Regions from separate parts of the Homo sapiens genome. Here region 2 is reported to be linked to region 1. The links are microRNA targets in miRTarBase. Many come from high-throughput screens and were not tested one by one. Region 1 holds a microRNA gene; the other region holds the end of a gene's coding sequence.
Evidence for each region. The annotated mature microRNA hsa-miR-193b-3p reads AACUGGCCCUCAAAGUCCCGCU and lies in region 1 at 1,702-1,723, shown strand. An mRNA with a match to its seed (bases 2 to 7 or 8) in the 3' UTR can be bound and repressed. Matches are read on the target gene's strand: a 7mer-m8 pairs with bases 2 to 8, a 7mer-A1 pairs with bases 2 to 7 and ends in A, and an 8mer does both.

Region 2: the mRNA of SF3B2 is a reported target of hsa-miR-193b-3p. The part of its 3' UTR that is shown has no 7-base or 8-base seed match.

What each region holds. Positions count from the first base shown.
Region 1 is chr16:14,302,316-14,306,465 of GRCh38, forward strand. MIR193B (microRNA 193b) reads left to right here and starts at 1,652; the gene lies at 1,652-1,734. All of the region lies in intron 1 of MIR193BHG (MIR193b-365a host gene), which reads left to right. RefSeq lists silencers at 1-199, 484-644, 550-789, 1,743-1,792.
Region 2 is chr11:66,068,374-66,072,373 of GRCh38, reverse strand. It overlaps SF3B2 (splicing factor 3b subunit 2), which reads right to left. Exons shown (of 22, transcript NM_006842.3): 22 at 3,066-3,700. The coding sequence ends at 3,629. It overlaps PACS1 (phosphofurin acidic cluster sorting protein 1), which reads right to left and starts at 2,102. Exons shown (of 24, transcript NM_018026.4): 1 at 1,532-2,102. The coding sequence starts at 1,887. RefSeq lists silencers at 1,158-1,362, 1,423-1,572, 1,583-1,712, 1,863-1,912, 1,923-2,542 and 1 more.

The DNA.
Region 1 (4,150 bases):
ACGCTCCCCGCCCATCACTTGGATCTCGTCTGGGGAGGGGCGGATTTTTTTTCTGGAAGTACCCTTCTTCTCCACGGTGGAGGATTTAAGGCTGGGCTCCAATCGAGGCGGAGGCTGCAGGGCCCGCGGGGCGCCCCCCGCCCGGCGCACGCCTGCCCGGAGCCCGGGAAGGCGCAGCCCTGGGTGGGGGGGCCCGTGCACCCCCGGAGGCGGCAGCGGCGGTGAGTGCTCCCCTTCTTCCCGCCTGGCACCTTCCGCCAGCCAAGGCAGGGATCGCGGCAGGTGGGTGCCCAAGCCCCCAGGGCCGAAGGGGTGTGGGGCGGCTGTCTGCGGGGTGGATGGGAACGGGAGAGGGGAGGTGGCGGCGGGGGAGCGCGCGGTTCTCTCGGGACTCGGCGCGAGACGCTTGTCTGGGCTGCGATTGCCGCCGCTGCCGCCACCCCGGCTCCCCCTCGGACCCCTCCCCCGCTCCCCAGAGGGGCGTGTGAAGCCGGGAGGTAGGAAGGGGGCGAGGCCGCCCCCAGCCTCCCTAGTGCCTGGGCTTGGAAATTGACGAGGCGGTGGAGCGTCCGCGTCCCCGCCCCCACCCCGGAAAGCCCGCTCGGGAAACTGACTCGCTGCGTGACCCCGATCTCAATGCCGCGCGCGGAGCAGGCCGGCCGCGCCCGCCGCTCCACGTGCGCCCGAGCCCCGCTGGCATGGGCGGCGGCGCCTGCGGGGGCCGGGCCCCGGGGATCCCGGACTAGCCGGGAACCACCGTCCCCAGAGAGTTACCGCCGCCCCCTAAAGTTGTCAGCTCCCTCCCCCCGAGAAGCAGGCAGCCCTGGCGCGTTGGCTTTAGCTTCTGCAGGACGGGGGCAAAAAAACTAGGTTCCGGGGTGCGGAGCGGGGTGTCTGTGCCCGAGACAACACCAAGTTAGGAAAAAGAAGTTAGAAAAAAAAAGAAAAAGGCATTTTGATTTGGGGGTGGGGGGAGTGGCGTTTCTGGTTTCTCTTTGCTTCCAATCCCCACCAAGCGGAGCGTTGGAATGCGCCGCTTATGTCCTCTGAGGACACATCCATATTTATAATTTATTTTTAGGAGAAGTTGTGAAAAAGGGAGGGGGGTTAAAATGAGGAGAAAAGGTGCGTGGGGGAGTGGCCTTTCCAGAACCTAGAGGCTAATTAAGCTATTAAAATGGAAATCATTTCCCCCAACTTGGGCGCGCAGCAAATTTGACTTTAATGAGAGACGATTAAGGACACAAATAACCAAACTTTATTTAGCTGGAGATGGGGTGGGGGGAACTGTACGAGGCACCTCGGACACCCGATTTATCCGCTGCTAAGGGACGTTTGGGGCACCCCTCGTGTTGTCCGGGAAGCTTTTAGGCCTGTTTGCTGGGCGAGATTGGTGATTGCTCCGGGAGGGAAGAGACACCCCGGGATCAAGCGATCCTCTTGCCCTCAGCCATGGTGTGGCAAATGTCCCCTCCTCCCACAGCGACCCCCTGGCATTTTGGTGAGATGAACCGCCGCCCTGAGGGAACACCCAGTAACGATTCCTTCAGTGATCCCGGTTCTCCAAACTCTTGCCTCAAAGGCGGCCTGCCCCGGTGCTGTCAGCCGTGAATGGGGACTCACTTCTTGGGAAAAGAGGCTTTTGGAGGCTGTGGTCTCAGAATCGGGGTTTTGAGGGCGAGATGAGTTTATGTTTTATCCAACTGGCCCTCAAAGTCCCGCTTTTGGGGTCATTCTGGACAGCGAGGGACTCAGGCCCCGGCAGTCTCGGGAGGGTGAGGGCAGAGAGCTACCACCCCCAGGGAGCGCGTCCAAAACCCGGCTGGCGGGGGGGCGGGGAAAGAGGGGGAGGTTTGCTACTTTCCATAAAACTAAAAGGTCCCTTCGAGGGCGGTATTCTTATAAGTGTGTGTTCTCAGTTTGCCGAACCTACTGTGTTTTCCAAGGGCTTCTCTCCTTGGGAGGCCGAAAAACGATACAAGGAGGAGAAAGTACATTCCCCCTGACCACCCCCACAGTGGTTTAAGGGACAGTATTGGATTGGAAAGGAATTAGTAGGATGTCAATTGTGGCAAAGTGTTTGAAGCCCCCAAATAAGGCGCTCCTGAAATGATGAATTGTAACGACATTAGATTTGTCTTTACGTTTGCTAAATTAGGAGAAACCAGCTGTTTGCTTCCACCTGGAATTGCAACATTTCTTTGCAACTCTTTGCTGTTGAAGGCGTTCTTTTTGTTCTGTTTTGTTTTGTTTGTTTGTTTGTTTGTTTTTTGGGGACAGAATCTCGCTCTGTCCAGGCTCTGACCAGGCTGGAGTGCAGTGGCGCGATCTTGGCTCACTGCAACCTCTGCTTCCCGGGTTCAGGCGATTCTCCTGCCTCAGCCTCCCGAGTAGCTGGGATTACAGGCGCCCGCCACCACGCCCGGCTAATTTTTTTGTATTTTTAGTAGAGACGGGGTTTCACCGTGTTAGCCAGGATGGTCTCGATCTCCTGACCTCGTGATCCGCCCACCTCAGCCTCCCAAAGTGCTGGGATTACAGGCATGAGCCACTGCACCCAGCCAGGCGTTTTATAGAAGGCTGGATAATACGTTCAGGGGAAGTCTCTAAAGCAAGGGTAGTGTGTATAAATCCCCGTCGCAGAACATTAACCTTCAGTTGTGTGTACACACACACACACACACACCCTATATAGTTGTAACCTATATAGACTTTCACACATCCTAAGTTATTTGCAAGTCTAGATTTAAATTAAGTCTACATAGCAGGGAATAGAAAAGTGAGCTGTACCTGGAAAAAACCTTTGAACACAGCGTTCTTGATACAAGATTTAGGATTTGAAAGACATGGCACATGTACACACAGATGACATTTGTGCTGCCTTGGCAAAAACAGTTCTTTACTTCCAGAGTTCTTTCTCTTTAGTATGGGACACGATGAAACAGCACAATTTTCAGGAGTCCACAATTCCAGCGAGGCGCGTGGATGGGAAATTGTCACGTTGTGAATTGTGTTTGTGCTTTGCTAAATCGCCACCCGGAGCTGACTGTCAAATCCTATTTGCTTTGCTAAATAAGGATATCTCATCAAATTAGCCTTTAATGATACTTCTACAAATAGGGTGTTTTACATGAATTAACGAGGCCGGAACACTGACTGTTTCTCCAAGATACTGAGCTATAATGGAGGCGACGAAGCCGAATGTTAAAATTACTGAATTGTTAAGTGTGCAAAATCAGACAGAATTTAGTGCTAAATGTGAAACAATTTCTGCTTTAATGGTGAGCATTCGCAACAGCACAAGCATTACTTATATTCAGCCGTCTGAAACTGTGCATGTAATTATGAATACATTTAACAAACTTTAACCCCCCTCTGAGTCTGGAAACAGTCTAGTATGGTGAAGAGATTATAAATCAGCATTTTGCAGTGAGAAGTCATCATTAATTCAGCAAAGAATCACAGCTTCTTTTCAGATCCTTCCCACCACCCTCCTACACACCCCCCTCAACCAATAAGGAAAAAAAAAATTCAGCATGGAACTGCTGGATACACTGAATATATTTTGGCTTTTCTCTTTTTGCCTCTGTGTGAGAAACTTCATTAAGCAGTTGCTGTTCCCTCCCCACCCCCGCTAACCCCCAAAGAAGTGTGGATTTAAGAAAAAAAAAAACAAAAAACAAGCAACTTTGAATTTTGTTCTTAGCAATCCCCAAGCCATAGCTGATCTCAGAGAGGCAAAAAAGATGTTTCAATAGAAAAGAATACGGTATGGCCAGGAGTAAAATATTTAGAGGTGGTTCTGCAATGAATATGATACTTCCTTAAAAATAAAATATATGTTGGTGATTCAAACCAATGAAAGTTGGAAAAGTCCCTCCAAGGGAACACTCTCTCTGTTTCCCTTCCCAGCAACCCCCCAACTTAACGTTATGAACAGAAAGATGGAAATTCTTGCCAGATCAACTATAGCCTCCTAACGATCAGCTCACCCTCCTTTAATTTTGATTGTGGAGCAAATACAGCTATTTTAGCCATGAGGATAAAAATGAGTGCAGTGAAAAGTTAAGGCAAACTTGGTACTTAAAATCACTCACCAGAATAAAGTGCGTGTACAAACAAAACATTGCTGATCAGTTACTTTAAGCAG
Region 2 (4,000 bases), not on the chromosome of region 1:
CAAGAGCACTAGGAGTCCTGGGGGGAAATGTGTGCATTACTGTGGGTGTTAAACAGGAAACAACCTACATATTCAAGAGAATTACGGTATATTCATTCACACAACAGAATACTACCCATCATGAAAATATTTAAACTATGGCTACCATACCACATGGATGATTCTCACAAACCTAATGCTGATTTAAAAAAAAATAAAAAAACCAATCAAGTCACAGAACACATACAGGATGACACCATGTACACAAACTTCAAGAACATTCAGAACTATAAAATATATAGAGATGCATTATGTAGTAAAACTAATTTTTTTCTAACAAGGGAAATGATAAACACAATTCAAAATAGTGTTTACCTTTGTAGAAGGAAGAGGGGAGACAGTCAGGAAGGGGCACCCTGAGAGCTTCAACAGAAGCGATAATGCTCTGTTCCTTAAGCTGAGCGAAACAGAAAGATGTACTCTCATCATTCCTATCTGGGATATATATATAAAACAATATTATCCAGAATAAAGGTGGGGAAAGGAAGACAGTCGAGGGGGGAGCCCAGCAATCCTCTCTAACTCTGACTTACACATCCGTCTGCCTAACCAACAGTGAGGAGACAGCCCAAGACTTCAAGGCAACAGAATCAACTCAGCTACAAGGTGACAAAAAAGAACACCTCCAGGCACTTCTCTGGGCTTTCTGGGTGAAACCAGCTCCACACACCGTCTTATTCAAGTGGCAAACTGTAAGACACAGCACCCTGTCCCCAGAGTTGGAGACAGACTGCCTTGCCAATACAAAAACAGAAAATATTCCCAAACTCAGGCCTATTTTGCCAATGGAAGGAAAGTCCCCAGATGGTTCCAACAGACAGAGAGCAATGGATTGAATTTAGGAACAAGGCAGTAATTTCATACAGCCCTGCAGAGCTGGGAGATTCTGGGACCAGTTTTAGTGGGGGAGGGGAGGTAAAAATACACTTGAGGACACATTAAATAGGGCCCCAAAACTAAGAGCCTAGCGCTTGGGACAGAACGTGTGTAATATGAAGTTCAAATGAACATGTGTGCCGAAGGCTAATGAGAAGCCCCTAGGGTGATTATATGAGCTTTACCTGCAAGAGGTGACAATCGAGTTTGGCACATGCTGAGTCTATTGGGAAATAATAATATCAAGAGATCTATACCACATCCATGTATGTACAGCTCCCGGCGCCGGCGAGGCAGGAGAGTGACTTACTCAGGGAAACTGACTGCCAGGAAGGCCGGATTCGGTCAGCCCAATCGGAGAAAGCCCGGGGCCGAGGCCAGAAGGTCCCTCGGGGAGGACAGAAGGGTGGTCCCGGCCCCAGGCAGAAGGTGGGGCTGCCAGGAGAGGGCGGGTCCCCGTGGCAGGAGTCCCGGGAGGCCTGGCTGGAGCCAGGCCGGGCCGCGGGACAGTCGGGGAGATGGAGGGCGGGGACCCCATGGGCGCTGGGGCGGGGAGGGCTGGGCCCCGGCGGCCACCCCGCTCCCCCGGCGCCCCGCCGCACCCTCCCGCGCTCACCTAGGCACGCAGCTGGACGAGCTCCGGTCCACCTCCCAGGTGGCGTACAGGTTCATCTGCACCGGGGCGGGGGTGCGGCCTGGCCCCGGGCCACCGGGAGGCGCGGAGCCCGAGGCCACCGCCACGGCCATGGAGGTGGAGGTAGACGAGGACGAGGAGGAGGCAGCCGCCGCCGAGGTGGACGAGGACGACGAGGTGGCCTGGGCCAGCTTGGGGGGCGTCGGCTGCTGCGGCGGCTGCTGCTGCTGCTGCTGCGGCGGCGGCTGCTGAGGGGACTGGGCGACCCCGGATCCCCGCTGGCCGCTGCCGCCCCCGGCGCCTCCGGGACCACCGCCCGCCCCTCCGCGTTCCGCCATGGCCCGGCTAGGCGGGGGTTACGGAGGCCGAGGCGACGCCGATCTGGCTCCCAGGCTTCCCCCGCGGCGGCGGCGGCGGGGGCGCGGCAGCCTCCTCAGCCCGCCTGCCCGAGCGCGAGCAGCCAGCGAGCTGCACGCACGCGCGGGGCCTCTGGGCGCGCGGGCCTCGCGCTCGACCGCCGCTGCCTGTTGCGGCTCGCGAGGCCGACACGGGTGGGCGTGTCCGGGAGGGGGCGGGGAGCCCGGCCCGCGCGGCCCCACCCAGCGCGGAGGGGCCGGGCCGGGCGCGCTCGCGCCCTGCGTGCAGCCACGCGCGCCCCTCGCTCCCGCGGAGTAGAAGGGGTGGTCTGTGGCCAGCGCGCGCCCACGGGTCCTGCCCTCAAATCCGCTGCCAGTCTGCCCCCGCTCCTCCCCTCCCCGCCCACGGCCGGCCGCGGCCCCGCCAGCGGAAACCCGGCTTTTCCGGGATTCGGTCCCTGCAGGGAGGGGGCCGCCGCGGGAGCGCGCCTCGGCCCCTCGGGTCTTCGGAGCCAATGCGGAACCCGCCCCCAGCGGTGGGGGTCTGCCCGGGGAAGCCGGCTCTCCGCCTGCCGACCTAGCCCTGCCCTGCGGCCCCGGCAAACAGAGAGGTCGGCGGAGACCCGGGGCCCGCTGCCACCGCGGGTGCCTGTGATCCGGGAAGTTCCCGCCCCGAGGGCAAGCGGGGGCTCAGGGACCTGGAGTCCAGAAGGTTCTTCGCATAAGTGAATTCTCAAGCTACCCCGGGGCCCATCTGGAGCCAACCTTCCTCTTCTTTCCCTACCCCCCAAATGCCTCTTTAGAGTGCCAGTGCTTTGTTGCTTACCAAATTTCTAAAATTCCATTCCTCCTAAGGCCTAGCTCAGCTGCCACGTCCTATCTGGATCATGCCCCCCACAACCCCGAGACCATCTTGAACCCTCCGGCAAGTGAGCGCCTCCACTGGTGCACTTAAACACCAACAGTAGTACAACAGCAGCGCATGACTACCCTCCCCACAGGCTGGCAAATGCCCATGGGAGCCAGTGATCCAGCCTGCTCTAGTCTGTCAGAAAGGCTGCTCAGGACCAGATTACAACCTGGAGAAAGTAAGTCCCCCCATCCCACATACAAATCCCAAACCCCAGCGACTAGTGTTGCTTGAACCCAAGGGTTCATATGGACTCAAGACAATTTAGCTTTTGAGCTATGTTGTCGCACAGGTAAGGACTTGAACTTCTGGTCACAAGGTCAGTTGGGAAGGCCTGCCCTGGCCTACTTCCCAAGCCCACTGTTACTTCCTCTGCCGCGCTAGGGCGCTAATCTGGCTATTTTTACTCCCCAAGGACAAAGTAGTAAGGTCAAACCAGACCTAGAGGTACTTCCCCCAAGCCTTCCTACAAAGCAGGGCAGTGGTGAAACACAGATTTCAGCCTGGGGTTGGCGTCACCACCAGTCAAATGCGCCGTCTAATCCCAGTTTATGTTCGTGGTTACTGGGGCAGCCCAGTGATTGTAGAAAGAGACTATTTTAGTCCTTTTGCAAGAAGGGGCTAAAAGGAGATGAGGGAGGCTCAGGAGTGTTAAATATTCATCTCTTTCCTTGGGAAACAGCTTTATTTACAAAACAGGTCTAAAATAAGAACATGAAATGACAAGTCCTTGGGAACTGCGGGAGAGGTGGTTCTTGTGTGAAGCCCAGGCATCCAGACGTAGGGCCAAAAAAAGGGCTAGTGTGAGGGGACCTAAAACTTGAACTCCTTATATTTCTTGCTGCCCCCACGGCTGTCCTGGGGCTGAGCTTTCCGTTTTTTTTGCTGTATAGGGAGAAAGAGACACAGGTTAAGACAGGTTGAACCACCCCCGGACCCCCAAAACAAGGGTGGGCAGCCTGACATAGACATAGAAGTCTGTGGGAAAGGCGCTGAATCTGAATTCTCTTCGAGCTCCCTCTCAGACTTGGCTGAGTTCCTCCCCCTCATCGTCCTTAAAGAGGGCAGCCCACTGGAGGATTTCTAAGACTTCCAAATCTAAGGAAGCACAGAGCAGCAAGCAGAGGCCACCCTCACTCTCACCACTAGAGGGCACCATGCCACTGAAAACGGCAGGCCAGGGTC